Regions from separate parts of the Homo sapiens genome. Here region 2 is linked to region 1. Evidence: fine-mapped QTL for protein levels in blood plasma. Region 1 holds a variant in brackets. A gene starts in the other region. All regions are shown on their forward strands.

Region 1 (16,553 bases):
GTGGCTCACACCTGTAATCCCAGCGCTTTGGGAGGCCAAGGCAGGCAGATCACCTGAGGTCAGGAGTTCAAGACCAGCCTGGCCAAAATGGTGAAACCCCGTCTCTACTAAAATATACAAAAATTAGCCGGGCATGGTGGCAAGCGACTTAATCCCAGCTACTTGGGAGGCAGAGGCAGGAGAATCGTTTGAACCCGGGAGGCGGAGGTTGCAGTGAGCTGAGATTGAGCCATTGCACTCAAACCTGGGGGTAAGAGTGAGACTTCGCTAAAAAAAAAAAAAAAAAGCATGTGCCAAGCACTGTTCTAGGCACTTAGGGAATACCAGAGAACCAAAGGAACAAAAATCCCCACGTTTGAGGAGCTTATGTTCTGGTGGAGGGAGAGAGATAATAATTAATATACATAATAAATAGACTACATATTAAACATAGGTTAGGGTGCTGCATTATAAACTACTGACACTGTGAGATCATCAGTGACCTGGATGGGCAGTTTCAGTGGGGAGGAGGCAAAGGCCCAACTGAAGTGTGTGAAAAGTGAACTAGAGGAGAAAGGAGAGGTATTGGAGACAGTGGGTCTGGCTAACAAGGAAGTGGTAGCTGTAAGGACAAGTGGGCTGAAAGGAGACTTTCTTGATGAGAATGAATGAACTCAGCTGGGAGAGCTGCTGGGGCCATTTCTTTGAGCCCATGCAGTTGTGAGGCCCCTGGCAAAAATCATATGACACTCTCCAAAGAGGGAGCCTGGAGAGATTATAATAGAGGAATGGGCTGACTTAAGAGAAGGAATGGTGAATCACAGGGTGCTCACAAAGCAGGAGGGCCATGAAGGAGCAAAATCAGGGGCAGTTATATGAAATCAAGACAGGGAGCTTTAGCCACAGGAAAGGGTTGCCCAACCAAAGCCGGAAAAGAGCTTCTGCCCACCTAAGGCCATGGGGAGGGATTGAGGATAAATACCCCAAAGTCTCCCTCCTCCACCCTTCTCTGTACTACTTGTACCTCCCATTGTCTCATCCCAACAGAAGTCAGAATGCAACGAGATCTGGTTGATACTGCACAGAGATCAGCTCCAGGGCCCAGTGCAAGGAGAAGGTGGAGAACAGATCCAGAAGGGCAAAAGGAGGACACTTAGCACAGTGAGAGGAGATAGTATCTAGTGCACAAATAGAGGGACTGGATTTAGAGAGGGACATGGATAATTCACCTGCAGGAGGGACTCTTAGCCTTTATATATACCATAAATTCTTTGATGGGTGAAATTTCTGGATGGTCAGAATAATGTTTTCAAATGCATAAAATATAAAGGAATACAAAGAAAACTAATTATATTAAAACACAGTTATCAAATCATTGAAAAAAAAAAAAATCAAAGCCAGGTGTGGTGGCACATGCCTATAGTTCCAGCTACTCAGGAGGCTGGGGCAGGAGGGTGGCTTGAGCCCAGGAGTTTGAGGTTGCAGTGAGCTATGATTATGCCTGTGAATAGCCCTACTGCACTCCAGCCTAAGCAATATAGTGAGACCCCCATATCTAAAAACAAACAAAAAAAACTGTGATACATTAAAGCATGTGTTTATTAATGCTGTATATAAGATCTAGCAGTGGGTCGAGTAACTACCATAATTTCAAAGTAGACTGAGTACCGTGGCTCATACCTGTAATCTCATAACTTTGGAAGGCCGAGGTAGGCACATGGCTTGAGCCCAAGAGTTTGAGACCAGCCCGGGCAACATGGAGAAACCCTGTCTCTAAAAAAATTAGCTGGGTGTGGTGGCATGTGCCCATAGTCCCAGCTACTTGGGAGGCTAAGGTGGGAGGATCATTTGAGCCTGGGAGGTCAAGGCTGCAGTGAGCTGTGATAGTGCCACTGCCACTGTACTCTAGCCTGAGTGACAGAGCGAGACCCTGTCTCAAAAATAATAATAATAATAATTTCAAAGTGGTAATACACGTATACAATATTTTATGAGTTCTACAAAAACTGTTTCATATATCTGTAGTGTCTTTCGGGGCTAAAAGCACAGGTACTGCTAATGCTACATTTATTAACTACATTCATAGTTGAAAGACATGCTAGATTTCAGATAAAAGTCATTGGAAATAAACTTTCAATCCCACATGCAAGATCACGACCCTGTGGATTCTGCCCCCAGACCCTTTAGGAGGAAGGCAGAGTGTGAGGCCACAGAAGTCGACAGGTGGGGAAGATAGATGGTAGGAATCTGCAGGAACTTCTTCTTGCTTTGCATTTCTCAGTGAAGAAAGAGTCAAGTCATGAGCCAACAGTGAGGATGGAAAGGTAGATGTGAGAGGTTGAGAAGAGAGAAGGCATGAAAGAGTCTTCTAGGAAAGTGGGAAAGTGAATGAACTAGGAAATAGCATGTGATTACCAGGCAGCACAAAGGGCCCATCTGAAGTTCATGGTCATGGAATTTAACGGGAGACTGGTCAGCAAGGGTGTTTTCTTCTAGCCACGTTCAGCTTCACGAGAAAAAGACAGGCTAGAGGGAGAATTGCGTTAACCGCTGCTGGGTTTTTGCCGTGTGAGTATAACAAGAAAGGGGCAAGGGAGGAAGAAGTGTGCATGCTTAAAGGAGGGATTGTAAAAACCCATGGAATGCAGATTTTTTTGATTTTTATTTCTTATTTCACTTATTTATGTATTTATTTTTTTGAGACAGCGTCTCACTCCATCACCCAGACTGGAATGTAGTGGCTCAATTTCGGCCCATTGCAACCTCTGCCCCCCAGGTTCAAGCGATTCTCCCGCCTCAGCCTCCTAAGTAGCTGGAATTACAGACACACGCCACCATGCCCAGCTAATTTTTTGTATTTTTAGTAGAGACAGGTTTTCACCATGTTGGTCAGGCTGGTCTCAATCTCCTGACCTCAAGTGATCCGCCTGCTTTGGCCTCCCAAAGTGGTGGGATTTCAGGCATGGGCCATCATGCCCGGCCAGAATGTAGTTTAATTAGAAGGGAAGAGAGGACATCAGTAAATAAGGCACACTGAAAAAGTGGTAGACTTGATGAAGTGAAGCTCCCACAAAGGCTCAAAGACTGTAGAATCAGAGTATAAGAGAGAATGAATGGAGAGATAGGAGGTAGTTGTCAGACAATGGGATTTTAAACATAACCTTTTGTGGTAGGCAGAAATCCTCCATCCTTCTAAAATGTCTAAGTCCTAATCCTTGAAACTTGTGACTATATTATCTTACATGGCAAAAGCAATTTTGCAGATGTAATTAAGTGCCTTAAAATAGGGAGCTTATCCTGGATTATACACATAGGTCCAATGTAATTGCAAGGGTCCTTAAAAGTGGATGAAGGAAGCATAAAAAGAGAGTCAGAGAAAAAAAAGGTGACAACAAAGCAGGGTCACAGTGATGCTATGTTGCTAGCTTTGAATATGGAGGAAGGAAGCCATGAACCAAAGAACGTGGGTTGCAGCTGGGAACTAGAAACGGTATAGGAACAGATTCTCCCCTGAGCCTCCAGAAAGAAACACAGCCCTGACAACACCTTGGTTTTAGACCAGTGAGACCCGCGTTGGACTTCTGAGCTACAGAACTGTAAGATAATAAATGTGGCCGGGCGCAGTGGCTCACGCCTGTAATCCCAGCAATTTGGGAGGCAGAGGCGGGTGGATCACTTGAGGTCAGGAGTTCAAGACCAGTCTGGCCAACATGGTGAAAACCTGTCTCTACTAAAAATACAAAAATTACCTGGGCATGGTGGCGCATGCCTATAATCCCAGCTACTTGGGAGGCTGAGGCAGGAGAATCATTTGAACCCAGGAGGCAGAGGATGCAGTGAGCTGAGATCGTGCCACTGCACTCCAGCCTGGGCGATAGAGCAAGACTCTATCTCAAAAATAAATAAATAAATAAATAAGTGTTGTTTTAAGCCACTAAGTGTGTTGTAATGTTTTACAGCAGTGATAGAAAGGTAATGCATCTCTTAATAATCAGTTTCATGCAGACTTAAACTTTGAGGAATTAAAGTATAATTCTAGATAACAAAGCATAAACAAGAAGCCATGAACAGAAGACTGTTATTTTTTTAAACTTGGAGAAATTAACTTAATGTTAAAGGTGAATATTAAATAAGGCCTGTATAACATTTCTCTGTTTATATGTTTTCTTACTACATTTAATACTTTTTCACTTTCTTGATTATGGATTTTTTTTACTTTGTTTTCCTCACCTCCATAGGTTTTTTGTTCTTTATCAGAATTCTCATTTTTTTGGTTCTCTTTGGGAGTAATATTTATAGAAAATTGAAGAATGTGTGCAAATTTAAAAAGTACAATGCACTCTTATTATTATTATTTGTTTGAGACAGAGTCTCACTCTGTCACCACGCCCAGCCACTCTTATTATTGATATGGATGATAAATGTAAGTCCTTTAGGGTTTCCCGAGAATATTCAAATGTGTGGAAATGTGCGGTGGCTCACGCCTGTAATCCCAGCACTTTGGGAGGATGAGGCGGGCAGATCACGAGGTCAGGAGATCGAGACCATCCTGGCTAACACGGTGAAACCCCGTCTCTACTAAAAACACAAAAAATTAGCCGGGTGTGCTGGCGGGTGCCTGTAGTCCCAGCTACTCGGGAGGCTGAGGCAGGAGAATGGTGTGAACCCGGGAGGCAGAGCTTGCAGTGAGCCGAGATCGTGCCACTGCACTCCAGCCTGGGTGACAGAGCGAGACTCCGTCTCAAAAAAACAAAAATAAAAATAAAAAACAAATGTGTGGAAATATTTCAAATGATGTTAAATACCATCTACTACTGCTGACCTAGGTTCCCCCATATCTCAATAGTGTAGTAGGCGTAGGGTTAGAGATAGGTTACAATGACTTCTGCAGATTTGGCTGAATCACTTATAAACCTTACTAGCAAGATTTAAGATACATTATAATTATATATCCTAAGACCTATAAAAATAGGTTATACAACTGATTTAAAGAAATCCTTATAATATATATAGATGATTCTTTCAGTAAATTGCTCTTACCTTCACATTTTTTTTTCTTTGAGATGGAGTCCCACTCTGTCGCCCAGTTTGGAGTGCAGTGGTGCAATCTTGGCTCACTACAACCCCCGCCTCCCAGGTTCAAGTGATTCTCCTGCCTAAGCCACCCGAGTAGCTGAGATTACAGGCACCCACCACCACGCCCAGCTAATTTTTTGTATTTTTAGTAGAGACGGGGTTTCACCATGTTGGCCAGGGTGGTCTCAAACTCCCGACCTCAGGTGATCCACCCATCTTGGCCTCCCAAAGTGCTGGGATTACAGGTATGAGCCACTGCGCCTGGCCCAAAAATATTTTTAAAACTTAATTTTTTTTTCTTTTTTGTTGAGACAAGGTCTTGCTCTGTCCCTCAGGCTGGAGTGCAGTGGCACAGTCACAGCTCACTGCAGCTTCAACCTCCTGGGCTCAAGCAATCCTTCTGTCTCAGGCCCCCAAGTAGCTGGGACTTATAGGCACGGCCACCACACCTGGCTAATTTTTGTATTTTTTGGTAGAGATGGGGTTTCGCCATGTTGCCCTGGCTGGTCTTGAACTCCTACGCTCAAGTGATCCACCCGGTTTGGCCTCCCAAAGTGGTAGGATTACAGGTATGAGCCACTGCGCCTGGTCTAAAACTTAATTTTCTTTATTCAACTTAGCATCCTCTTGCATGTCTGCTTTATTATTCTTGGTGTCTAGTAATTCTACTTTATTTGAATGTTTTTAATTTAATATCAGCTCAGATTTATTTGTAGACTTTTCTCTATTACTCTTTTCTTTGCTGTGCTTATGTGTGGGTTTGGAGGTGGTTTTTTTTTTTAAGTAATGCTTACTTTTAATTTAATATGTTCTTTATATTAAAATCATTCTCTGAAAATAAAACAAATGTACCGATGTTGGTATATGTATATATTCAGTATTTTGTTTAATATAACATTTGAGTTCAGGTTTTGGACTGAATATTTTTTAAAAGGAAGTTTTTCAGGAATTTGTTTTTCAACTCTTCCTCCTCAAAAAAACTTTTTTCTTCCTCTGTTATTGTGAAAGCAAGTTGTTTTCATGTCTCGTGTTGTTTTTTAGATTTCTAAAGCATATATCCATAGCTATTTTGTTTCCTTCTAAACAAATGCCCAACAAAGCAAACCACTAGAAGAAATCAGATCCCACAAAGCGTAAGTGCAGAAAAGTAAACTCCCTAAAGACACAGGCTCTTGGGATTCCACTGGAAGAGCCAAATCCTTAACAGTGTTTGTAAAATACAAATCATCATTTTTGAGCATTTACTTTACGGTCAATTATAAATAAGATCACTACGTACCTAAGTTTTTTATTTTTACTTTTTAAATTTTGTCTAAGTTTTAATAACCTCACAGTGAGTCTCATGATGCCAAAGGCAAAGTTTCGTGGTATTAGCTTTAATTGAGTCAATATGTTCATTTAAAATAAATATACGTGTATAATTCAGTACACAGCTCATTTTCACATTGCCTTCTGAAATTCTATCCCTGCGAAAGTGAATGGGGATCACTTACAAAATAATCTTAATAGAATTATTTTTATTTTTCCCTTCTAAAACACCAAGTATTTTAGTTTTTAGTATTTTTCAAGCACAAACAAGAGCATTTATAATAACAGTATATTATTTCTCTGTAA[T/C]GGTGACAGCCTCTCGTCTCACTCAGAAGAAAGTCAGTGTGACCTAGGAGGCCCATCCTGTAACCTAGAAGGCCCATCATGATCTGGCCCCCTCTTACCTCTGTCATCTCATCTCCCGTCACCCCTCGTCCCACCTCCCACCATTATCTCCACCCCAGACACACTGGTGTTTGTACTGTGCCGTATTAGCACACTCTCAACTCTGGGCCTTGATCCCTGCTGTTCCCTCTGCCTGGAGTACTCTTCCCAGATAGCCACATGACTCACTCCCTTGTTGCCTTCAGCTCTTTACTCAAAAGCCATATTCTTAGTAAAGTCTTCCTGGCCCTTTATTTCAACCACCTTTTCCCTAAAATTTTATATCCTCTTTCCTACTTTTTAAAAAAATCCCTAGAACTGATCAACTACTTAGCATACTACATACTACATATTTTATTTATTTATTTATTTATGGAGACAGGGTTTTTGTTGTTGTTGTTGTTGTTGTTGTTGTTGTTTCCCCAGGCTGGAGTGTAGTGGCACGATCTCAGCTCACTGCAACCTCTACCTCCCAGGTTCAAGCAATTTTCCTGCCTCAGTCTCCCAAGTAGCTGGGATTACAGGCACCTGCCACGACGGCTGGCTAATTTTTTGTTTTGTTAGTTGAGACGGGGTGTCACCATGTTGGCCAGGCCCGTCTTGAACTCCTAACCTCAGGTGATCCACCTGCCTCAGCCTCCCAAAGTGCTGGGATTACAGGCATGAGCCACCATGCCCTGCCTCTTCTTTTAATTTTTTTTTTAAGAGATAGGGTCTCACTATGTTGCATAGGTTGGCCTCAAACTCCTGGGCTGAAGGGATCCCCCTACCTGAGCCTCCTAAGTAGCTAGGACTATAGGCGGTGCCACCTTCCCACCTTGTCTGGCTCAGGATAAACATTCTTATTATCTGCCAAGAGTTGGGTGATAGAGTATACATGTTTCATATCTGTATCAGTATGGTCCAATCAGGAGACAGAATCCACATGGAAATTTGAACAGGGAAACATTTAATATAAAGCATTATTTTTGGCTGGGCGTGGTGGCTCAAGCCTATAATCCCAGCACTTTGGGAGGCTGAAGTGGGCAGATCACAAGGTTAGGAGTTCGAGACCAGCCTGGCCAATATGGTGAAACCCCATCTCTACTAAAAATACAAAAAAAAATTAGCCGGGCACAGTGGCTCATGCCTGTAGTCCCAGCTACTCAGGAGGCTGTGGCAGATAAATCGCTTGAACCCAGGAGGCGGAGGTTGTAGTGAGCTGAGATCCCGCCACTGCACTCCAGCCTGGGTGACAGAGCAAGACTCCGTCTCAAAAAAATATATATATTTTTTAGAAAAATAATTACTATGCTAGTACTGTTACGTTGGAATGGAGTAATGAGAGATTGGCTAGTGAAAAGTAAACACATAAGGAGATATAAGCAGATATACAGAGCAGCTATGAGAAAGAGCACTCAAGGAGGAGCCTCCAGCCCCCAGGACTGAGATCCAGAACTTGCTGGAGAGGGTGACTCTAGCTCACTAGATGGAGAGAAGTTGCTGTGGTACAGCACTGGTGGAACTCGCTGGAAAGCACGCTTCTGGGGAATGCTGTTCAAAGAGAGGTGTCTTAGGGAAGACCCTCCATTACAAAAGTATCTGAGGCAGGTGCCAGGGGAAGCTGCTGGCTGCTGGGTGCTCCTGACCCCGTGACACTGCAGGAGCTAGGTGCTGAAGGAGCCACATGAACCACATACACTGCAGGAACTTGCTAAGCAGGAACCCTGAAACTAGGAAGGAAAGTCCCTTCCCCATCTCTCCAGCAGCCTCTTTTTTTTTTTTTTTTTTTTTTTTTTTTTTTGAGACAGAGTCTCACTCTGTTGCCCAGGCTGGAGTGCAGTGGCACAATGTTGGCTTACTACAACCTCCACCTCCCGGGTTCAAGCAATTCTCCTGCCTTAGCCACCTGAGTAGCTGGGACTACAAGCATTTGCCACCTAATTTTTGTATTTTTAGTAGAGGCGGGGTTTCACCATGTTGGCCAGGCTGGTCTTGAACTCCTGACCTCAAGTGATCCACCCGCCTCGGCCTCCCAAAGTGTTGGGATTACAGGCGTGAGCCACCGCATCCCCAGCCATCACCCTCTATTGACAAAGCTTAACAGAGTGTGCAGGCTGGTAAAGAGTAAATTTTAAAGGGCTCACCTCCATTTTCACAGGGCAGGCAATGAAGGGAGGATTTGAAGTGGAGAGGCATGAAACAGAATACATACAGGCACAATATCTATGTCCAAAAATTATCATAGTAGATACCGTACTATGTTACATATCATTGAGTATTTGGAAAAATTTGTTTCCTATTCTAAAGCTGTATTCTTAGAGGACTATATGGCATATTTCAATACTTTATTCCACAAACGTACCATCTGAAATAATGTAGGCAGAGTATTTGGACTTTCTAAAATGAAAATGCCATCTGTTGCCAGAGTCTACTGGACAAATTTGTTATAAGTCGTAGCTATATTAATAATGAACTGTTCAGGAATGGTAAATTCAAGAATATAAGGAAACAATTGATCAAAGGGAGGCTATTTAAGGCTAGAAACATTTAATGTTAACTGCAGCAATTACAAATATGTCTTACACACTCATTTATGGAGGAAAGTATCCGTATTTGAATTAGAGTAATAAAGATTTGCTTAAAATATTAAATGGTACACTTTGGACAGAAGCCTAAGGTATGTCAGTTCTAAGAAAACATTGTCTGTTAGAAAATTGCCTTTTCTCCTAACTTAAATTTTGTTTGGTATGTTTCTTTTTAATCCAAAATGACCACAATGTTCTTGGACAATGCTGCTAAATATTCTCTCTCAAGGGCTCCAATCAATGTCTCAAAACATTTCCCAATAGATTCCCACAAAGCTTCCCCTTTGTAAGGGTTTATTCAAGATGTAGAAGACAGCACCTACCCCAAAGGCAATTGGAAAACGTAAGACAGCATAGTCCTTTTAAATATTACAGAGAATCAGATGTTGGCAAGGTACACAGGCAGCAGTTACTGGCAAACCTCAGAAGGCTGGGTCTAGGCGGCCAGTTGCATTTGAAAGCAGCTCTTTCCACATCACTAATATATTGAAATACAGTAGTCCTTCCATGGTTTCTGCTGCCCATAGCACAATACAATATTTTGAGAGAGAAAAAGAGAGAGACACAGAGAGAGAGAGAGAGAGACCACATTTACATAGCTTTTATTAGAGTATATTGGTCTATTACATTATTAGTTATTGCTATCAATCTCTCACTGTGCCTAAATATAAATTTTATCATAGGTATGTATGTACAGGACAAAAACATAGTATATACAGAGCTCTGTACCATTTGCAGTTTCAGGCATCCACTGGGGGTCTTGAAACATCCCCTCAGAGAAGGGGAGGGACTACCGTACTTGATAATTATGTCGAATCAACAGCTCATTCACATATTGTAGGCAGAAGAGGGAAAAACTGCTCTAGTATATGAGATGTTTCTTACAAAACCAGAAATGCAAGGTAGAAGGTAAAAGTGATTGAAGTTGTAATAAGTATTTTTTTTCAATGTTTATATTTTTTAGTAGAGACAGGATTTCACTATGTTGGCCAGGCTGGTCTCGAATTCCTGACCTCAGGTGATCCGCCCTCCTTGGCCTCTCAAAGTGCTGGGATTACAGGCGTGAGCCACCGCGCCTGTCCAGATGTTTGGGTTAGAGGTCCTCAAAACCACTCCCACGTATGATGATTCACTAGGAGGATTCACAGGACTCAGCATATAGTTATACTCATGGCTAAGGCATATAGATGATATCTATATATGTCTTTACTGACCTATTGCACAATCAGGAAAGGGAAAAGTCACCTGGGCACAGTCTAGGGGAAACCAGGCACAAACTTCCAAGGTGCTTCTCTCAGTGAATTCACATAGGACTTGCTTAATCTCCACAGCAATGAGTTGTGTCAATACATGTGAAATGTTGCCAACCAGGACAGCTCACTAGAGACACTGTGCCCAAAGCTTCTATTGGGGGGTAAGCATGTAGGCATCCCCTGCCTGGCATGTACACAAATTCCAAACTCTCAGAAAGAAAAGCAAGTATTCAGAAAAAAACACATTGTTTGTACAGTTTTAGGTACAATGAGCCACTCTTATCAGTTAAATGTTGAAAACCCTCCCCAGATCTAAGTTTCTAGATGCCAGCTAAGGGACAATCGTGTAATTGGGCTATTCCGAGGATAGCAGTTCAGGGGTCCTATGTTGTTTTCTGCACAATTTCTATCACAGAGAATAAAGAATATTCTTCTGATAATGATCTCAAAATATCAGTTATAGTTGAGACATTAAATTGTTAGATTTTTACTACTTGGGTGGTTCTATTAAACCAAGGTAAATAATGTTTATTTTTCCTTAAGTCTTTCACAATTTACTATGTATGTTCAAATCTGTCTTATCTTTTTTTTGGTAAAGCAATCTGGCACTGTCATTTTTAATAGAAATTTTCTTTTTCTGGCTGGGAGCAGTGGTTCACGGCTATAATCCCGGCCACTTTGGGAGGCCGAAGGGGCAGATCACCTGAGGTCAGGAGTTCCAGAGCAGCCTGGCCAACATGGCAAAACCCTGTCTCTACTAAAAATACAAAAATTAGCTGAGCGTGGTGGCACATGCCTGTAATCCCAGTTACTTGGGAGGCTGAAGCAGGAAAATCACTTGAACCCGAGAGGTGGAGGTTGCAGTGAACTGAGATGGGCCACCACACTCAAGCCGGGGCAACAGAGCAAGACTCTCTCAGAGGAAAAAAAAAACTTTTTTTTAAGCAGAAAAGTTGTTTTATTTCCCTTGGGAATTAGAAAAAGGACTCGGAATTGTTGGGTGCTCATGTCTACCTTGGAGCCACATGACTAGATGGATTTTTGGATAATTGTCCTGTTTTTTAGCTACCCAGTGTGATACATTGTTTCTTTTTTTTTCTTTTTTCTTTTGAGACGGAGTCTTGCTCTGTCACCAGGCTGGAGTACAGTGGCACGATCTCGGCTCACTGAAACCTCCACCTCCCAGGTTCAAGTGATTCTCCTGCCTCAGCCTCCTGAGTAACTGGGATGACAGGCACATGCCACCACGCCCAGCTAATTTTTTTTGTATTTTTAGTAAAGACGGGGTTTCACTATGTTGGTCAGGCTGGTCTTGAACTCTTGACCTCGTGATCTGCCCACCTTGGCCTCCCAAAGTGCTGGGATTACAGGCGTGAGCCACCATGCCCGGCCACGTTAGTTTCTTTAATGGCCCTTCTGCTCACGATATTTACAAATGTCCTTATCTACAGGCTTCAACATCTTAAAGAACAGAGACACTATGGGTTATTTAATACAATGTGCCGTAACAAGTATTGATTTCCAGTTTGTTTATATTTTAAAGATGTCTGAAAATGTTGACCATATAGTTGATATTTTTCTAAGCTTGCAATTATATATTTTTAATTCATTAAAAAAATTAAATCCCCTAAATTAGGTTTAAGCCCATTTACAAAAAGAGAAGGTAAGTCCCCTTTTACTTCAGATACTAGATCTAACCCAGAATACTGAAAGTTTCCCAAAGTTTATTTTTTATTTTTATCTAATTTATAATCTTTAATCTTTGTCTATTATATCCTTAAAATAAAGGCTTCTATAACTGCTTTATTTAGTGTATATTTTTATATTTAAAACATTTTACAGTTGCATTATTTAAATCTCCTTCATGATTTGCTGCTTTTAGACATTTTTCTTTTTGGTAGGTCTTACAATTAATTGACTTACTTCGTACAGGTCTATAGTTTAGAACAACACTCATCTTTTACAAACCTGGATTCTATAGCACATTTTTGGCTATTTCTCTGAAGACTATAATTTCTTAATTATGGTCCTTAATTTGGCTCTAGACTAGGATTTTAATTCAACTTCAAATATCCATCAACTGATAAATGGATAAACAAAATGGGGTATACCTATTCAATGGAATATTATTCAGCCATCAAAAAGAATGAAGTACCGATAATGCTGCAATGTAGATAAACCTAGAAAACAAAATACTAAGTGCCAGAAGCCAGTCACAAAAGGTCATATGTTATATGATTCAATTTACATAAAATGTTCCGAATAGGCATATCTATAGAGACAGAAAGTAGTTTAGGCTGGGCACAGTGGCTCACGCCTGTAATACCAGAACTTTGGGAAGCTGAGGCGGGCAGATCACTTGAAGTCAGGAGTTCGAGACAGCCTGGTCAACATGGTGAAACCATGTCTGCCAAAAAATACAAAAATTTGCCAGGCGTGGTGGTGCATACCTGTAGACCCAGATACTCGGGAGGCTGAGGTAGGAGAATCGCTTGTACTTGAGAGACAGAGGTTGCAATGAGTTGATATTGTGCCACTGCACTCCAGCCTGGGTGACAGAGCGAGACTCTGTCTCAGAAAAAAAAAAAAAAAAAAGAAAAAAGCAAGCAGCAGGAGAATAAGTGGATTAATGGCAAACATTTTCAAATGGTACACCTCCAGAGTAAAAGGAATAATTACCTTATTAAATACCTGGGTCTGATTAGTAAATGGTGCTTCTCCGAACCAAAAGTTGTCTAATTACTTGGTACAAACACCTAGTCCTAATGGATCTCCTTAGTTATAAATCCTAGAATAGAAGAATAAATGCAGTAATAGGGATTCAATGGAAACAGAGCTCAAATGGTTATTGATACTGATTTCATATGGCAGCTGATCTGGTAGACCAACGAAACTTAGATAGAAGGAGCCCAGTAAGTGCACCCGTTGGTCTGAAGATTGCCTGGAATACTGCCAACCAAGAGTCTTCAAAATGATCTTGGTGGAACCTCCAGAATTACTAAAGGATGAGACTGCTACCGAGCAATTAATGGGCTCACTTCCCAGTGCTCTTAGAAGGCAATACCACAGCAGCAGCTTTTGAGAAAAGAAAAGCTTTAGTGCCAGTCAACTGGCAAGGTAACAGAAGGAAGTGCTCAAGTCTGTCTCTTCAAGCTGAGGGCTGGCTCAGGTTTTATAAGCATAGGGTAATGAAGGGTGATCTGATTGGCTCTTGCAATGAGGTGATGCTGGGAGGCATGATCCAACTGGATACTGCTATGGGGTGACCCCAGGGCTCAATCTGATTGGATCCTGGATCCTGCCATGTGGCGTCCACTTGATTCAGTCCCCACTCCTCAGGCAAGCAAGTTCTGACAGTGGTTGTAGGCTTGGTTCATCTGTGCATGTTCAGGTTACATGACCTTCAACCTGGAGGTCTTTGGCAACTGAAAAAGAACTCACAACTTTGTTACCTAAGTTGAGCCTGACTGGTCTGGTGGAGTTAGAAGACCACCACTCAGTATCTAAACAAAAAGACAAAGCTGGATTTGCATGCTACAGTAATGGAAAGCTATACTGGTCAGGTAGAGTCTGAGCAGGGCAGACTGCTGGACTCTATAGGGTTTGGGGGAAGCATGGAGTTCAGGGATGGGTAGATTCTCAGAGGTATAAATGGGATGGCAGGATCCTTAAAAGCTTGGTTACTCGGATGCTACTATAGTTGGTTGGCTGGTACTCAGACATCTTTTTTTGGAGTGAGTTCATCTCTGGTTGGTTGACTTTCAGACATGAGAGGCTGATGCTGATTGGTTAGCTTGCAAAAGTAGTTCACGGAGGTGAGTTGTGTTTATCAAATGAACGAGTTTAAAACTCATTCTGAGCTGGCCTGGTGGCTCACGCCTGTAATTCCAAAACTTTGGAGGCCGAGGCAGGTGGATCACTTGAGGTCAGGAGTTTGAGATCAGCCTGGTCAACATGGTGAAACCCCATCTCTACCAAAAAAATACAAAAGTTAGCCAGGCGTAGTGGTGCATGCCTATAGTCCTAGCTACTTGGGAGGCTGAGGTGAGAGAATCTCTTGAGCCCAGGAGGTGGAGGCTACAGTGAGCCGAGATTGCACCACTGAACTCCAGCCTGGGTAACAGAGGGAGATTCTGTCTCCAAAAAAAGAGCAAAACAAAATTCATTCTGGTTGCTACTTGGTTCTATGGCTCACAGAACAATCTTTTCCTGTTTGTGAGTTCTTATTCTGATTTTCTTACATAACCACAGCACAATTATCAAATGTAGAAAATTTAGTCTTTTTTTAAATTTCACGACTCCTTTAAACAAAACGTGTTGTTTCCAATCCATAATCACGCATTGAATTTGGTTATCATGACTGTTGAGTCTTCTTTATTCTGAAACAGTTCTGTTTTCCTTTGTCTTTTGTCTTTTATGACATTGTCATTTGAAGAGTACAGGCCACTTTTGTGTTGGACTTGTTTTTTTGTTTTCTGTTTACAGAACATCCTTCAATATGAATTTTTCTGATTCTTCATGGATAGATTTAGGTTATGAAGGTAGAAGTGATGTTGTTTCCTCAGTGAATCATATCAGGGAATCTCAGTGATATCAGCTTTTACCAGTTTTGGTGATATTCATTAGGTGTCTCCACTGTGAAGTTACCGTTTCTTCTTCTTAAAAAATATATCATGGAGGGATATTTTGAAACTGCTCTTCATTAAACTTTTACTCAATGGTTTTAACACCTACTGATTATTGCCTGAATCAATTATTACTAATGTCATTGTTGCAAAATGGTGATTTCCTAGCTGTGACATTCCTTCTCCTTCTTTTATTTCTTTATCTGCACATTTTTAGTATCTGTATGGGCTCTTTTTTCAATCAATGGGTTATAATTCATTGTTCCAGATTCAGCCAGTGGGAGTCCTTCTGGCTGGCCCGAGTCATTTTAACACGTTCCCATCATTTTCTAAGCACTTTTTACTTTCTCAGCCTCAGCCCTGGAATTGGCCAGTTCTCCCTGAATCTGGTTCCTTTTAGTGAACCTTTTTTTCATTAAATATATTTTGGATATTGGTGTATATTAGTACTGGACATTAATAGCTGCAAAGTATTATATAGTGTAGATGTTCCCTAATCTACTTAACATGTCCTCATTGGTTGTTTCTAATCTTTTAATATTACAGACAATTCTGCAATGAACAAATATCTGCATACTTTATTTTGCACATGAATGTGTATATCTGTAGGATTATCATCTAGTAGTGAAATTTTTGCATCAAAGACTTAGGGAATTTTTAATTTAGATAAATACTGAAAAATGTCCTTCAACAGTAGAGGCTATACTAATTTACACTTCTTTCTTTTTTTTTTTTTTTTTTTTCTGAGACGGAGTCTCGCTCTGTCGCCCAGGCTGGAGTGCAATGGCGCGATCTCGGCTCACTGCAACCTCCAACTCCCAGGTTCAAGCGATTCTCCTGCCTCAGCCTCCTGAGTAGCTGGAATTACAGGCATGTGCCAACATGTCTGGCTAATTTTGTATTTTTAGTAGAGATGGGGTTTCACCATGTTGGTCAGGCTCGTCTTGAACTCCTGGCCTCAAGTCATCCACTTGCCTCGGCCTCCCAAAGTGTTGGGATTACAGACATGAGCCACCACACCCGGCCACTAATTTATATTTCTACCAATATCCTATGACTGCAGATTATCAGGCTTACAAATTTAGGTCAAAATTCTGTTTTTTCCACAGTACAGTTAGAGGATTTTAATTTTTCAATTATATTAGTCTACTAGAATAGGCAGTTTAAGAAATATTTTCTTCAACCAGTGATCAAGAGAGAGTGATTAATCCTGCCTATGAGTAGCCCTGATGATGAAGTCAAATTGGATTTGCTTTCTTTTCTTGTTTTATTTTGTTTCATTTTTTCAAAGAGATTAGGTCTTTTTATGTTGTCCAGGCTGACCTCAAACTCCTGGGGTCAAGGGACCCTCCAACCTCAGT
Region 2 (16,553 bases), not on the chromosome of region 1:
CCAATTGCTCCAGTACCATTTATTGAAAAGGCAATCCTTCCTTTATTTAATTGCATTTGCATTTTGTGAAAAATCACTTGGACATATTTGTGTAGTCTATTTCTGGATTTTTCTATTCTGTTCCATTGATACATGTGTCTACTCCTCTGCCAATACCACACAGTCTTGATTATTGGTTATGTTTAAAAAGTTTCTGAACTAATTCTCAGTGTGGCCTGAGAACCATTTCTGAAGCTAGAAGAAAGTCTCCAAGAGACTGACTAGTCCAATTATCCCCTGTAATCCACAAAGGTATAGTCAAAGTGTGCTGTACTGAGAGTCAAAAGACCTGGGTCTTGTAGTCTCAGCTCATCAGGATGTGGCTGAGTGACCTGGCTAGGTCTTTTAGTCTGAGTCCCAGTTTTCTCACCTGTGGAACTGGGATGCTCATACAGCACTTGTTTAGCCTACCCTCCCAGTATGCTTGTGAGTGTAAAAGGAAATATATTTGATCTATATGTAAGGTTTAGACTTAAGCATAATTCAAATACAAAGGGTTCTTATTTTAGGGATAAGCACAATGAGATTCAGAGATTAAGGTTCTCCTTACCCAAAGTCATCTTCTATTTGACTTCGTGGCACCCATCAGAAAATTTCACATATTATTCAGCACATACGTAGTGTCCAAACTCTGCCAGGCACTGTGAAAAGTCCCTGGGGTACAAACACAAAAAGACATGGTCTCTGCCTTAAGAATCTTTCTATTTAGTGAGGACATAATTTTACAAAAGCTAAGTGAATACAAATTAAATTTGTATTGAGTATTCCTTTAGAATTCCAGGACCCTCCTAGTTGGATGAGTCCACAGGACAATAAATCATTGTCCTAGCATCTCTGTAAGTCCCCAGCTATACTTTCAGACTTTCACAGGGATGCACACTGACTTTGGTAGAGTCAACAGGAAAGAGGGTTTTCCTGGACAGAGCTAAAAATCCTGTGAGGTTCACACACTTGTAACCCCTTCCCAGCGATCACCATCTACACTCCAGGATTCCTCTGCCATCCATTTATTAATCAAAAACATCCCACAGAGCCTATTCAGGGCCCAGATGTCAGGCTTAGTATCTGGGTGATAAAATAATGTATACAACAAACTCCCATGACACGAGTTTACCTATGTAACAAACCTGCACATGTGCCCCCGAATATAAAATAAAAGTTAAAAAAATACAATTTTTAAAAAATTTAAAAAGTGTATATTGCCTACATCAGGTGGGGCAGATCGTGCAGACAGTGGGCATTCCCAAGGGTCAGCCTGCTTCTTCTGTGTGCTCCCAGGTCTCATTTCATGAATTGATTTCAGCCAAGGACTATCTATAATGTAACTGCATGTGGACTAGCTTTGTCAGAGAAAAGACTGGATGTAACATTCTTCTACGTAGCCGGCACTGAAGAAAATCTTCTTTGGAAAACAAAGGCTATTACTATTAAATCACTTAAACATTATTACATGCTATTTGGTACGTTCCAAGTGCATGAGAGTAAAGCAAAACACACAATAGCAAAACATGATCTACTGCAGCAAAATCAAAATTCAGTTTCTAGAGTCACAGCTGGAGAGATGCTCTGATGTAACCACAAGTGCCATCCCAGCCACTGGTGAGGCTCTACTGCCCCCGGGTGGCTGAAGTCCTTCTCTGACAAAGCTGCCGGTGCTCTCATGCTGATAATGTTACAGTGATTTTTACAAGGGCAGAGTGGATGTATGAATAGTTGGATGGATGGATAAATGCATGGAGGGATTGGGGTATTCATTCATTTAATAGTATTTAATTTCAACTATTTTTCCACACATGGGGCCAAGAGCTGTTAAGACATGATGTTTGAGATCTGAGATGTAAAAAACTGCATTGGTGTTAATTAAGCTAGAGCTGTGGTCCTAGCTGCTCAGTGCATTGGTCCCAGGAGAATGGGGCGGGGCGGGACGGGGCGGGGAGGGGGGTGGGGTGGGCGGGGTAAGAAAGGATTAAGGAAGTGACCTAAGATAAGAGGGGAGGGACTTCCCAAATATACTTCTTCTAGGGAGACAAATATAGCTCTGGCTAACCCATAGCCTATTAACTCATCACTTGGGTTAACAGGAGAAAGAATAAAAAACAGTAAGTGTGGGGTTAGATGTATACTAGAAGGAATACAGGGAAAATCCAAGGTGGGAACAGGGAGAGTAGGCAGAACACTTTGCTACACTGAAAAACAAAGTCAAACAGGTTAAAACAAGATATGGCACTTGACGTGACTGGTCTTCAAAGATGATGCCACTCAGTATTAGTTACTATACTATTGATGGATATGCAAACTGGTACATTTATTTTGACATAGTGGTTTCACAATCAGGAATTTATTGTCTAGAATTACTTGCATGATATACAGAGAGAAGAACAGATGAGACCACCTGTTATTCGTTTCACCTGGACTTAAATAATAGAGTTAAGACACTTCGAGATGAGGAGTTTCTTCTGGAGATTGAAGATTGTGCTGGAAGTTGTCACTGTAGCTGGGTTAGTATTGTTAGCTCTTTTTAAGGGTCTGTAAAAATTCTACAAGATTCCCAGCGATCTTTTTAAGATTCTATAAAAATTCCCAGTCTTTTGATTTCAATTGAACTCAAATATGCATTTATTGAGCACCTGATGAATGCACACTACTTTGGCTGGGTTTTAGGAGGTTGTGATGCAGGGATAACTCAGATCAGATTCCTTCCCTCAAAGACCTTGGTCTAGAGAAGCCTGGCTTGTAAAAACATAAAATACAGAATTTATGGTGAAATAATGGCTACAATACAGCATTATGAAAATATGGGATAGGGAAGATATGATACATTCTAACTGGAGGGATGATGGAGGGGAGATTCCCAGCAGATGTGGCATTTGAGCCTTGAAACAGAATTTTGACAGCTCTAGGGGAAGAGGGTGGGGGAAAGTGGGGAAGGATTCTTTTCCTTTAGGTTGGAAGAGCATGTGTTGCTATTTATTAAGTCTTTATTGAGCACCAGCAAGGTGTTGTGTAAAATAGACAGCATAAAAACAACTATAAAGGGGAGATAAAATACATCCCTGAAAAAAAGTCATAACAGTAAATGATACTGTTTGATTACCTATCAAAACAGTCTACAGAATCCAGAGGTGAAGCAGAAATGCAGGCTACTTTTCTCTGGGTAGTGAATTAGCCACTTCAAAAATATTTCAGTGAAGTCAGTAAAGGAAAACATGAGGCATAATAAGACATTTCTACCACTAGCCCTCCTTTCTTCACTAGATTTTGTAAAAAGTTACTGTTTCTATTTTTAATTACATGAGTAATCTTGCTTCAAAAAATTCAAGGGATAAGAAAAAGTAAAAAGCAAAATTCTCCCTTCAAAATCCCCTGTTCTCCTCCAATCTCATTTCTCTTTCTGGAAGTAAGCACTATTATCAGCTTACTGTGTTTCCTTCCAGAATGATTTCAGATGAATTCATGGAAATATGTAACTGGTGTAATTTTGCATAAGTGGATATATGTGTTTTTCTGAACTTTTTTACTCAACACCATATTTTAGAGAATTTTATATGTTAGCACATAGACCATGGAGTACAGAGCTACAACATTTTTTTTTTTAAACTGGAATTCCACAATTAGGATATACCTTGGCTATTTCACCGTTTCCTTTTTAATGGTTAACAAGATGAAAACTGCTAAAGTCTTATTGGGGTTTTTATAACCAAACAAGGGAAAAACGACTCCAACTCTGGGCCTAAAAGACATCCTACTTGAACCTCTCACTTGCAGTTCCTCATTCAATCCCCAAACTGCAGTGTGTTTCACAAATCCAGTCTCCTAAGTGAAGGGAAAGCAGGAAACCCTTGACGAATTCAGTAGTAATACAATGAGATAAGTATGTGCTGTGATTCTTAACTCCTAGCCTTCTCCAAAGGGACCAGTGATCATCTAGGGATAAATATGCACTGAAAAAAAAGGAAAATCGCAGTATGCCACAGTAGTTCACTGGTTAGAGTGGGGTTTACAGGGGTGAAGTAATTAAAGGAATTTTAACCCAAGTCCACCTTACAGTAAGTTCGATGGAACCCTAAACCCTTCCAGTGTTTTTTCCCCAATTCCTGAGTGTACATTTAAAGGACATAAGGCAGAATCTTCACATTGGTTTCCTAACCTTTAGAACAAGGGTGAGCAAGATAGAAAAGACTATGAAGAATCCACAGAGCTTTATTACACTCTCCAACCCCCAATCAAAATAGTAATGCACAAGTTATAACAATCCCTTGTTGACTAGCTATAGTGTCACCCTAAAATATCTGAATCAATTATCTTAATTTATACCTGCCTTCCAGCTTGACTGGTAATGAAAACAGATGGACCTGGAAGAATGACTGACAATTATTAACTCAATTAAGTAGTGTACCCAACTGCAGGTGCCTTTCCAAGCATGGTCTCTTTCAAGGAACAAATCAACAGAGACCCTTGTATGTAGCTATTGCTTACGCAAATGCTTTCTCCTCCTCCATTTAACAAGCACTTACTGTCTTACAGTTTCTGTGAGTCAGGAATCTAAGCGTGGCTTAGCTGGGTGCCTCCATCTCTGGGTTTCTCAGGCAGCTACAATCAAGATGTCAGCCGGGCTGTGGTCAACTCCAGGCTCACCTGGGGAGAATCTATTACCAAGTTCACTCACCTGATTGTTGTCAGGCCTCAGGTCCTTACTGGCTGTTGGCTGGAGACATTGGTTCCTCAACATGTGTCCGGAATTGGTGGGTTCTTGGTCTAACTTAAAGAATGAAGCCGTGGATCCTCGTGGTGAGTGTCACAGTTCTTAAAGGCAGCATGTCCGGAATTTGTTCCTTCTGATGTTCGGATGTGTTTGGAGTTTCTTCCTTCTGGTGGATTCGTGGTCTAGCTGGACCAGGAGTGAAGCTGTAGACCCTCATGGTGAGTGTTACAGCTCTTATGGTGGCCCATCTGAGTTGTTCATTCATCCCGGTGGGTTCGTGGTCTCACTGGCTTCAGGAGTGAAGCGGCAGACCTTCGCAGCGAGTGTTACAGCTTATAAAGGCAGTGTGGGCCCAGAGTAAACAGCAGCAAGAGTTATTGCAAAAAGCGAAAGAACAAACCTTCCACACGACAGAAAGAGACTCCATAGGGTTACTACTGCTGGCTCGGGCAGCCTGCTTTTATTCCCTTATCTGGCCCCACCCACATCCTGCTGATTGGTTCACTTTACAGAGAGCTGATTGGTCCGTTTTGACAGGGTGCTGATTGGTGCATTTACAATCCCTGAGCTAGACACAAAAGTTCTCCAAGTCCCCACTAGATTAGCTAGACACGGGGTGCTGATTGGTGCATTTACAAACCTTGAGCTAGACACAGAGTGCCCATTGGTGCATTCACAATCCCTTAGCTAGACATAAAGGTTCTCCAAGTCCCCACCAGACTCAGGAGCCCAGCTGGCTTCACCCAGTGGATCCCACACCCAGGCGCAGGTGGAGCTGCCTGCCAGTCCCCGGCCCTGCGCCCGCACTCCTCAGCCCTTGGGCGGTCGATGGGACTGGGCGCCGTGGAGCAGGGAGCGGCGCTCCTCAGGGAGGCTCAGGCATGGCAGGCTGCAGGTCCCGAGCCCTGCCCTGCGGGGAGGCAGCTAAGGCCTGGCGAGAAATCGAGCACAGCAGCTCCTGGCCCAGGTGCTAAGCTCCCCCCAACTGCCCGTGGCCAGCGGGGACGGCCGGCCGCGCTGAGTGCCGGGCCCACCGAGCCCGCCGAGCCCACGCCCACCCGGAACTCGGGCTGGCCCGCAAGCGCCGTGCGCAGTCTCAGTTTCCGCCGGCGCCTCTAGTCTTGCTTCCCTCCAGTCCATTCTTCATGCTACAGGAAGAGTGAGTTTTCTGGAATACAAATCTAATCACAACCGTTCCCAGCTCAAAACCTAGCAGTACTCTAGTACTGGTGCCTCAGACTAAAATCCAAGCCCCTTGCTTCCTGAGGCAGAGATGAGTGTACGTGAATTTTTAAAAATAACCATACAGAAAAACAGATTCTTTGGGATGTGCAGTTCTGCGAATTTTTATTTTTATTTATTTTTTTGAGGTGGAGTCTTGCTCTGTCGCCCAGGCTGGAGTGCAGTGGCACGATCTCGGCTCACTGCAACCTCTGCTTCCCGGGTTCAAGTGATTCTCCTGCCTCAGTCTCCCAAGTAGCTGGGACTACAGGCGTGTGCCACCACCCACGCCTGGCTAATTTTGTATTTTTAGTAGCCACGAAGTTTCACTATGTTGGTCAGGCTGGTCTCGAACTCCTGACCTCAGGTGGTCCGCCCACCTCGGCCTCCCAAAGTGCTGGGATTACAGGAGTGAGCCACCGTGCCCGGCCTTCTGTGAATTTTAACACATGTATAGATTCTTGTGGCCACTGCCATCTATTAGTCCCCAAAACAACCTCATGCTATCCTTTCATAGTCGTACTCTCCCTCATCCCTACCCCTATCTTTTTAAGAAGGTCAAAGAAATGGAATGTGATCTTTTGAAAAACAAAAACACCCAAGCCCCTTAGGGCGTTTTTAATGCCCTTGCCTACCTCTCCTCCCTGTCCTCCAACAACTGCCCTCCCAAGCCCCACAATGCAACTCGCCGGAACTATGCTCAGTTCTTGGGGTGCTCCAAGCTGTCCTCCACTTAGCCAAGCTCCCCACCCGCTTCCGGGGGTGGGTTTCCACTGTGCACAACAGTACCTAGCGCTTCCCCCACTACAGCCCCCTTTCACGCTGTGGTAATTGCCAGGTTATCTGCCTCTCCCATTACAGTTCCTTCCTCACAGGGACCGCGTTTAAACCACGGCGGTATCCCTACCGCGCAGGATGGGCCGAGCCCCGCACGCCCCGAGGCAGCACCCCGCACGCAGTAGCCGGGCGTCGAGGCGTTCCCAGCCCACACCAGGCGCGGACCTACGAAGGCGGAGCGAGCATGCGCACTAGGAAGGGGCGGGGCGGGGCGCGCGCGATCCCCCGCCCCCTGCACGCGGTCCCAGGAGGGGCGGGCCTTGGCCGCTCGCTCTCCCCTCCCCCATGCCGCTGCGCTTGCGCGCTGGGGACAACCGTTGCTGGGTGTCCCAGGGCCTGAGGCAGGACGGTACTCCGCTGACACCTTCCCTTTCGGCCTTGAGGTTCCCAGCCTGGTGGCCCCAGGACGTTCCGGTCGCATGGCAGAGTGCTACGGACGACGCCTATGAAGCCCTTAGTCCTTCTAGTTGCGCTTTTGCTATGGCCTTCGTCTGTGCCGGCTTATCCGAGTGAGTGACGGGCCTGAGGAGGCAGCGGACCGGGGACACCCTGGGGGAACTTCCCGAGCTCCGCGACCTCGAAGCCTGGCCCTTCCTTCTCCCTGGTCCTACATGCCTCCCTCCCCCACTGTCCGGGGTCCTGGCCTCGACGCCGAGGGGTGTCCCTCTCCTCTCCTGGTCAGGGAACGCAGCAACTGAGGCGGCGCGGCCCAGATGAGACGGGAAGCGCCTGCGGGCCGTGGGCGCGGGTGGAACCCCCTCACCTCACCGGAGGCCTTCCTCTGCCCACCCGATCCTTCCCCAGCCATTGGGCGTGTGACCGTGCAGGGGTCGTGTGACAGCTGCTGGCCAGCTAGGAATGATTTTTACATTTTCTTCCTTTTTTTTTAATTATTATACTTTAAGTTCTAGGGTACATGTGCACAGCGTGCAGGTTTGTTACATATGTATCCATGTGCCATATTGGTGTGCTGCACCCATAACTTGTCATTTACATTAGGTATATCTCCTAATGCTATCCCTCCCCCCTCCCCCCACCCCACGGCAGGCCCTGGTGTGTGATGTTCTATTTTTGCATTTTCAAAGTAAATATGAAATGTACTCTTTCATGACTTGTGGAAAAGCATGACGCTCACATTTCATTGTTCGTGAATAAAGTTTTACTGGCACACCACCACGCTCATTCCTTTACGTATTGCCCATGGCTGCTTTCCCACGTTAGAACAACGGGGTTAAGTGGTTGCCACACAGTCTGGTCTGCAAAGACTGAAGTATTTACTCTCTGGCCCTGTACAGAAAAAAAGGTTGACCCGTACGGTAAAATTTGGAGAGCATGTGGATTGTGGGTCGCGGTCTGGGACACTCACCTGAGGATGCGCTCCCAGAGAGCATGCTTGCGCACACGGCATTCAAAGCCTTAGTTAAGCAGGATTATAACTTAAGACCTGCCAAGGAGCAATTTTTGTCCCTCCCCGAAAGCTGAAAACCAATAAGGTCAAATTCAGGGGTGCTAAGACTTTACTATATTAACAATATCATGTGGGCACCTTAAGGCACTTAGTATTTAAGTCAGGTAGGTGAGGCTTCCCCATTTAGTCTAACTGTAGTTCATTGTGGCATTTAGTAATGTTGGAGTTTGGTTTCACTTAAATCAATAAATACAATTTAACAGGTGTAAAAAAAGCGCTATCGTGCATGCTGATTATGCAAATCTATTTTTCAGAATTGCTAAACGATCTTAGTTAAAAATCAAATTTAAAAACTGAAAATACAACACAATCTAAATTATGAATAGTAATGGGAAAAGTTCTAGATGAAGTTCTAGGTAACTAAAGTTAGCTCTTTAAATACTAGCATTTATGATTTGTAGCTGTTTTTAATAAAAAGTTTTGTAAAATTTTTCTTCCTTGACATAGAGGACCAGAACATAATGAAGATGCTACTATCTTTTCTTGATGTCTGATGATCATTATTACTAACACCAGTTATTGCATTTTGGTAGTTGTAGATCAGCAAGTCACAAGTGACTAACATATATGGAGACTTTAACTGAAGTGACTTTAACACTGTCACACAGTACACTCTGGGACTGCTAGGTAGGAGTCCCTGGACACCCACTTAACTCAGTGCAGTCTCTTGCCTAACACCATAATTTTCCCCTCCCCCTCCCCTTCCCTTTTCCCCCCCTTTTTTTTTTGCCTGAGACAGGGTCTCACTCTCTAGCTCAGACTAGAGTGCAGTGGCCCGATCTCGGCTCACCGCAACCTCTGCCTCCCAGGCTCGAGGGATTCTCCCACCTCAGCCTCCTGAGTAGCTGGGATTATAGGCGCACGCCACTACCGCCTGGCTAATTTTTGTATTTCTAGTAGAGACGGGGTTTCACCATGTTGGCCAGGCTGGTCTCGAGCTCCTGACCTCAAATGATCCATCCGCCTCGGCCTTGCAAAGTGCTGGGATTACAGGCTTGAGCCACTGTGCCCAGCCAGCCTGTTGTCTTTCTTAGCACCCTATTCCCTAATCTTTCTTGGGAAGAAAGAAAAGGGTTGTAGGAAATGAAAAGACGCTTCCCAGAAAAAAGGAGTGATTTTGTGTTGAATATATAGATGTTATAAGACATAAGGAAACTATATACAGGTTGTAATCATAGAAGATGTCTTGGAATATGTAATTACCTTTCTTCTACAGAAGTGGATTAAGGAATATATAGAGCAGGCAGTGGTACATGGCTGCTTTCTCTGTATCTGTCTCTCTACTTTTTCTCTAATTTTAATTTTGTTTTTAAAATAAGTATACCAAAATGCGTATATCATTGAGCTTGATGTAAATCAGCTATGCATTCTTTTATATGGCCACTATTCAAACAATTGTTGGCGAGATGCAAAAGATAAGGTACATAGGTTTTTATAATGAAAAGTGCAGCTTTGACACATTTTTTCTAGACTACTAGACAGTTTTGAGGTTATTACGCAAACATCACGGGTGTATTAAGTAATTGCATTTATTGAAAACCTCAGTACTTCTTGTATCTGCCTATACCTTTCTAACAGGCCCAATCCAAGCTTAGCTAGTATTTGTTTAATCTAAATTCAGTTAGACATAAATGCAGCTTGGGTATACAGAAGTCGGCACTCCTTTACATACACACACACACATCCTGATGGTGCTGGAGAAACAACGTTTTACTATATAAAATTTTTATACATTCAGTTTCCTCTACCTGATTTTTCCATAGTTTTAAATACTTTGCCATTTTTAAATTTTTGAATGGGAAAGTATTTAATGTATTCCCTCTTTAATGTATTTGCACTGTGCAACTTACTTTACTTTTTAATGAGAATTCTTTTTGCTTTAAAAAAAAAAAAATGCACAGGCCGGGCACGGTGTCTTACACCTGTAATCCCAGCACTTTGGGAGGCTGAGGCGGGCAGATCACCTGAGCCCAGAAATTCAAGACCAGGCTGGGCAACATGGCGAAACCCCGTCTTTACAAAAAATACAAAAATTAGCCAGATGTGGTGGGGCAGGCCTGTAGTCCCAGCTATTCGGGAGGCTGAGGTGGGAGGATCACCTGAGCCCAGGAGGTAGAGGTTGCAGTGAGCTGAGATGGCGCCACTGCATTCCAGCCTGGCTGACAGAGTGAGACCTTGTCTCAAAAAAAAAAAAAAGCACAGTAACTTCTAAAGTAATATTAACATAATAGTTACATATTTAAATAATATCAACTACTATTAAAATTATATAATTGGCCTTTTTAAATTTTAAGTCATCAAATATTCATGGGCTGGCAGTGCAAACTAATTAAAATTAAAGTGTGTTAATATTAATTTAATATTAATATATGTTAATTTTTAAATGATTCAAACTTTGCATAATAAGTATAAATAAAATTAAAATATTAATTTTGGGGTATCTCCCAAATAAATTATTTCCTCTAGATCATCTCTTGGTATAGACTAGGAAAAATAGGGTTAGTCTAGGATTACAAAAGCTCTTATTTCTAGATTGGTATTATAAGAAGGCTCAATGTATCAGTCTTTGGCTTCTGTCATTGTGTTTAGGAAGGATTTTGTCCTAATGAACCACAGAAGGTAAGGGAAACAATAAGGCAGCAACCAGCAACAATTGTTTGAATCTATCACCAAATAAATTAAGAGGAAAAGAATATTCTTTTATTTCAAATACATTCTAAAGGTAAAGTTCACTGAGTTCTGGTGCTGCAAGTTCACTTAGCTAGTGCCCAAGGCTACAGCATTTAAAAGGTCTCTCAAACCTGTGAATAAACTGTCATGACACACTTTGTTAATGTTTGAGATAATGAGGAGCATGTCATCCAATAGGCAAGTGTCAAGAGAGTATTCTGTGGGGGAGTAGCAGGAAGTTTCATTAGCCTGTCCATTGATGTTTTATGGGGGAAAAAAGTCCTGTCTTTCTGTTCTGTTGATCATATTATCCCTTAAATGGATATACTTTAATCTCTTGATAATATATGTGAAATTAAACTTAAGCAACATTTTTTATCTCCAAATAAAATACTAGTTATTTGAAAAGAAAATATTTTCTTTTTTTTTTAGTATCACTATATATTTGAAGCATTTTAAAAACACACAATTTATTTAACCTAAGTATAGTTTTTTCCGAGCCTCAAATATTCATACCTTGACCATTTGGAGCCATTGTAAGCTGTCTTCTCTTGTTCTTTTGATAGGATCCCATATATTTTTAAAGACTTCTTGTTTTCTGATGTTAACTGATTGTTCCAAGCCCACTTTGTGTCTTTCCCACTCTATCTTTCTCACTCTGAATGGAATTAACTGTCTTTCCAAGGGGATGGAGAACATGGTATGAGAGACCAAAGTGCCTGCGATACATACTAGACTACTGCAGTGGGGAAATATTGTTATTTTTGTCATTTTAGTGAACAGAACTAGAAGAGAAAGATTTAAAATAATGAGTTTATTTTGGTTTCAATTATAACATTACTCATAGGATGCATCTTGATTTTTAACTCTTTATCCGCACTAGAATTGTAACATAATTTAATAAGGCTATTTTGGTTGTGTATTGTGGCAAAAATGACTGCTCCCCAAATTTATCATTTTTCATGATTCTATGGGTTCACTAGACTCAGCTGGGCAGCTCTGCTTCATATGGTATAGCTGAGGTCACTCATGCAGCTGCATTCAGCTGGAAGTTCAAATGGATAGGAACATCCCAGATGGCCTCTCATCCTCCAGGGTCTTTACATGACTTCTCATCTTTCAGTACTCTAGCCCAAGTTTCTTTACACCATGGCAGCTTGCTTCCAAGAAGGAGATTTATAAGCCCCAACATGGATGCTCTTACGAAGCCTACACTGTATCAGACTTGCTAATGTCCTATAGGCCAAGACAAGTCACATGGGGCAAGCCCATATCCAATGTCAGAAGACACTACCCAAGAACATGAATAGCAGGAAGTGTAAAGCCATAAAGTTACATTTCTTTAACTGGAACACTTGATTAATATGAACATAATTACTTGTTTATTTACCTGTCAGCAAAAATTAAGATTTGTGTAATAATAAATTATAAGAAAATTGCTGGATGAATAAGAAGATTTAATATTTCCTTTTATGACCATTCCTTGAGTACACCTCAGTAATTAAGCACAATTATTACTACTTTGAGTTGGAAATACAGTACTCCAGCTCAGTTCGTTTTAAAATTTTAACCTTCATAAAAGTTCATTTTAATTTGAAGGTGTTGGATATTTTAACTGGTAGTTCTTGCATTATTACAGCTTTCAGTTATTAATTCTTACTTTAGTACTTAACTGCTGTAGAATAAGGGAAGTTTATTCTTTATGAGTCCACTTCATGGTATGTATAGAAAATACAAGCAATTTGTTCTCCAAAGTTATGGACATTCAGCCAGAGTGTGTGGACCATCTATAAGTGATGGATGCTTGGGTATATGTTTAAGTTTTATATACATGAGTTCTTTATGGATAAAGCCATTTTGTTTTCACTATCATTGTAATAAAAATCCTAGTTATATTCAAATCTTTAACAAAATGAGCATCCATAATTGGTGATTAAATTTTGGGTGCAATCAGCAGTTGCCATATCAAGGCTACTGGCCAAGGGCAAAGTAGAAATGTATGTGTATCTACACAATGAAATATTATTTGGCCATAAAAATCAATGAAGTACCGATACATGCTACAACATAGATGATCTTGAAGACATTACGCTAAGTATAAGAAGCCACTCACAAAAGGACACATATCGTATGAGTCCATTTATATGAAATGTCTAGCATAGGCAAATGCGTAGCTACAGAAAGTAGATTAGTGGTTGTCCAGGGTCTGGGGGATAAGGGATATGGGAAATGGATTTTACTGTGGGATGACAAAACTGTTTTAAACTTAGATTGTGGTGGTGATTGCACCACTCTGGACATACTGAAAACCATTGAATTTCATACTTTAAGATAAATAAAAGGTAAATTATGGAGGTATTTTAATATTAAGATTGTGATTTACTTACATTAAAATTATGTCAATGCAGTATTACTTTAGAGATTGATAAAATTCAATGAAAGGTAATTAGTAGAACATAAGTTTATGTGATCTAAACTTACATTAGGCTATTTAGTAAGGGGCAGTTACAAGAAGTATGGGGGCTCTCTGAGAAATGGAGCTATTTCACCATGATGTTTATGATGTTATTTTATATAAACTTCACACTTAGAAATTTAGAAAGACGTAGTAAGCTGTGTCTTTTATTATAAAAAACTGCTTACTTTGCCTAAAATAAAAGAACATTCTTATTACTCATTTAAAATTTTCTCTGTAATAATTATTGGACAATTAGCCAGAAACTGCTCCCCACACAATAGTTTTTAGACTAACAGATTTATTTTTAAACATAACATGAAGTCTAGTTTTCTTCCTCTGTATTCTTCTGTAGAAATGTTTTACCTGTGATTATCTTAGTAAGATAAATTACTAGAAGTGCAATTAATTTACATACCTTCCAGCATTCTGTTCATTCATTCAGTTATTCATACTTTTTGACTGTCTAGTATGGTTCTAGGCACTGGGTAAAACAGAGTATATAATGAACAAATTAGATGTGTCACAGCTCTCAAAGAGCTTACTAAGTGTAACAGTTAACAAATATTAAACTAACAAATACAGTTAGAACTGTCTAAATTCTATAAAGAAAAGATCAGTATGCTAGAGAGAGACTAAAGAAGGATCTAGGGATCAAAAGGGGAGTAAGGATGGAACTTATTATTTTTTTTCTTTATTTCTTCTAAAAAAAAAACAGGATCCATGTGTAGAACGTGCAGTTTCTTACATAGGCATACGTGTGCCATGGTGGTTTGCTGCATCTATTGGCCCATCCTTTAAGTTCCCTCCCCTCACCCCCCACCCACCAACAGGCGGTGGTGTGTGTTCTCCAGGGGCTGGGGTATAGGGGATATGGGAAATGGGTTTTATTGTTCTCCTCTCTGGGTAGGAGGGAACTTATTTTACTAAGGAAGTAACATATACACATGCCAGTCCTAGGTTTTATCATTTAAAAATATTTGCCTACTTGACTGGCAAAACAAAAATTGTTTTTAATTTGCATATCTTTTATGAACAATGAATTTTAGCAAGTTTTCATGCAAATTGGCTTTTATGTTATTCTCTTCCTCCTTTAATTGGTCATTCTATGAAAAGGAAATATATTTCACATGTATTATTTATTGAGTGAAGTTTTAAATTTTATTTATTTATCTATTATTTTATTTTATTTTTTTGAAATGGAGTTTCACTCTTGTCCCCCAGGCTGGAGTGCAATGGCACAACCTTGGCTTACTGCAACCTCTGCCTCCTGGGTTCAAGCGATTCTCCTGCCTCAGCCTCGAGAGTAGCTGGGACTACAGGTGCATGTCACCATGCCCAGTTAATTTTTGTATTTTTAGTAGAGATGAGATTTCACCATGTTGGCCAGGCTGGTCTCGAACTCCTGACCTTAGTTGACCCACCCAAAGTGCTGAGATTACAGGCGTGGGCCACCAAGCGCAGCCTGAAATTTTATATTTCATTGCTCATTTTAAATCATGATTTTATTATTTTCCTCATAATAAACTCAAAAGTAATTAACTTGCCTTTTATTTCTGTGTGAACGGGATGTATTTTTTTGTAAGTCATTGATTGTCAGTTACTTGTACTTTGTAGTAAGAAAATACTGTATTTGGATTATTTTCAATATTACTAGATACATCTTAATATGCGAAAGGGATGCATTTTGGTCCATTTGATGATAGAACAAAATTTGGTCATATTTAATTTAATTTAATTTTAATATTTACATGTAGTTTAAAATATTTTGGTCCAGTTGACAGCACAATTTCGGATACTATATTTATTTATTTGATTTTATTTAATGTTCACATGTATTTTAAAACAGAGTAGTATCCCTGCAGAATAATTTTATCACAACACTAATACAGCTTTGCCAGCATCCTTGTGTCATTTCTTTATGACAACATTGTGTGGTTGTTACAAGCACCTGCTTTGAAGTAAGGCAGCCTGTGTTCAAATCTCATCCTTACTTATAAGTTGAATATAATCTTAAGCAAATTGCTTATCCTTTCTAAGTCTCTTCCTTTTCTTCTTTGACAAAGTACTTCTCACAGTCAAAGCTCTGGGTATAGTGCCTGGCACATAGTGATCATTCAATCAGTGGAAGCTATTAGGATCTTTTAAATCATTATCTTCCATTTCCCCTTTGGATTTCCTACCACTTTTGTTCCTACAGTTATTTAGTACCATTTTGTTTACTTTCTTACCATTTCTGTTGTGTGACAGTTCTTCCTGTACTATTTCAAGAAGAGAAGTGCAGGCAACCTCAGGCTCACCTTCAGGCCCCATATCTGAGATTCCAGCAAAATCTCAAGCCTGCTTAGCAGTTAGCCATCCTGCTTATAAGAGGAACTGGAGAGCAGCATCATGGTTTCCCAAGCTGAAGATTCTTACCTGGGCCAGAGCCATGTTCTAGGACATTGCCATGTTTGCTTTAATCACTTACTGGTAAAAATAGATGGGATATTATAAAGTATACCAGTGTAGACTATGAATATCCAAGTATAATAACACAACTTCTAGCAAGATTGTCTGTTCCTTGTAAGAATTTGAATTTTGTTCAGCTTTCTAGCACCTCCTGAAGAATGGAGAAAAACAGGTTTTCACAGTGGCCACAGCCATCTGTAGGGACAGTTGAGGCTCCACTATCTTTTACTACCTTGACCTACAAACATTTTTATAAAGATCAAATTGATTTGCAAGAGCAGACCTGATTAGTAGAACTGAGAAGGTCAACATGAAATAGGGAGATGTTTTAGGGGACAAAAGCAGGAGGTAGAAGGTGTGTGGAGAGAGGATGGAATTAACAATAGAAAAATATGGAGCCAAGGGTACATGAAGAACAGAGGAAAATCGAGGTAGGAGGTAGTGCACTCTGTTGCTAGGCAGCCAAGAACAGGCTTTTGGGTGTTGCCTGAGTAACAATAGAAGGGGATAATAAATATTTCAGTTTGTTAAGGAATCAGCTAGTAGTAAGTATCTCCTTTTCCTGTCCTTTGGCACTCTAACTCACCTAATATCCACCTGGGTATCTTATTTACTACTTTGAGAAGAGGCAAGCTAAATGGTTGAAAAGCAAGTGTTTAGCAGCCTATAATCTAATGGCAATGTCTTTCTAAAAGCGTTGAAACCTTTGT

Alleles and levels. Alleles are on the strand shown, and positions count from the first base shown. The strength of an association depends on the size of the effect and on how common the allele is.
With allele C in place of T in region 1, the plasma level of the protein whose gene starts at base 7,116 in region 2 is higher (weak association).

Evidence for each region. PIP is the posterior inclusion probability: the model's chance that the variant is causal. Protein levels are from antibody-based Olink assays in UK Biobank. Linkage for the fine-mapping came from a reference panel and not from the study's own genotypes, which makes the PIPs less certain.
Region 2: it holds the start of SPESP1, and the variant in region 1 is fine-mapped to the plasma level of the SPESP1 protein (UK Biobank, PIP above 0.99).

What each region holds. Positions count from the first base shown.
Region 1 is chr2:151,382,023-151,398,575 of GRCh38, forward strand. No RefSeq gene overlaps it. Among named protein-coding and RNA genes, the nearest start is that of RIF1, 20 kb to the right of the region's middle. The variant T/C (reference allele first, on the strand shown) is at 6,670.
Region 2 is chr15:68,923,410-68,939,962 of GRCh38, forward strand. SPESP1 (sperm equatorial segment protein 1) reads left to right here and starts at 7,116. Exons shown (of 2, transcript NM_145658.4): 1 at 7,116-7,308. The coding sequence starts at 7,245. It overlaps SPESP1-NOX5 (SPESP1-NOX5 readthrough), which reads left to right and starts at 7,116. Exons shown (of 17, transcript NR_033672.2): 1 at 7,116-7,308. RefSeq lists a silencer at 3,792-3,992.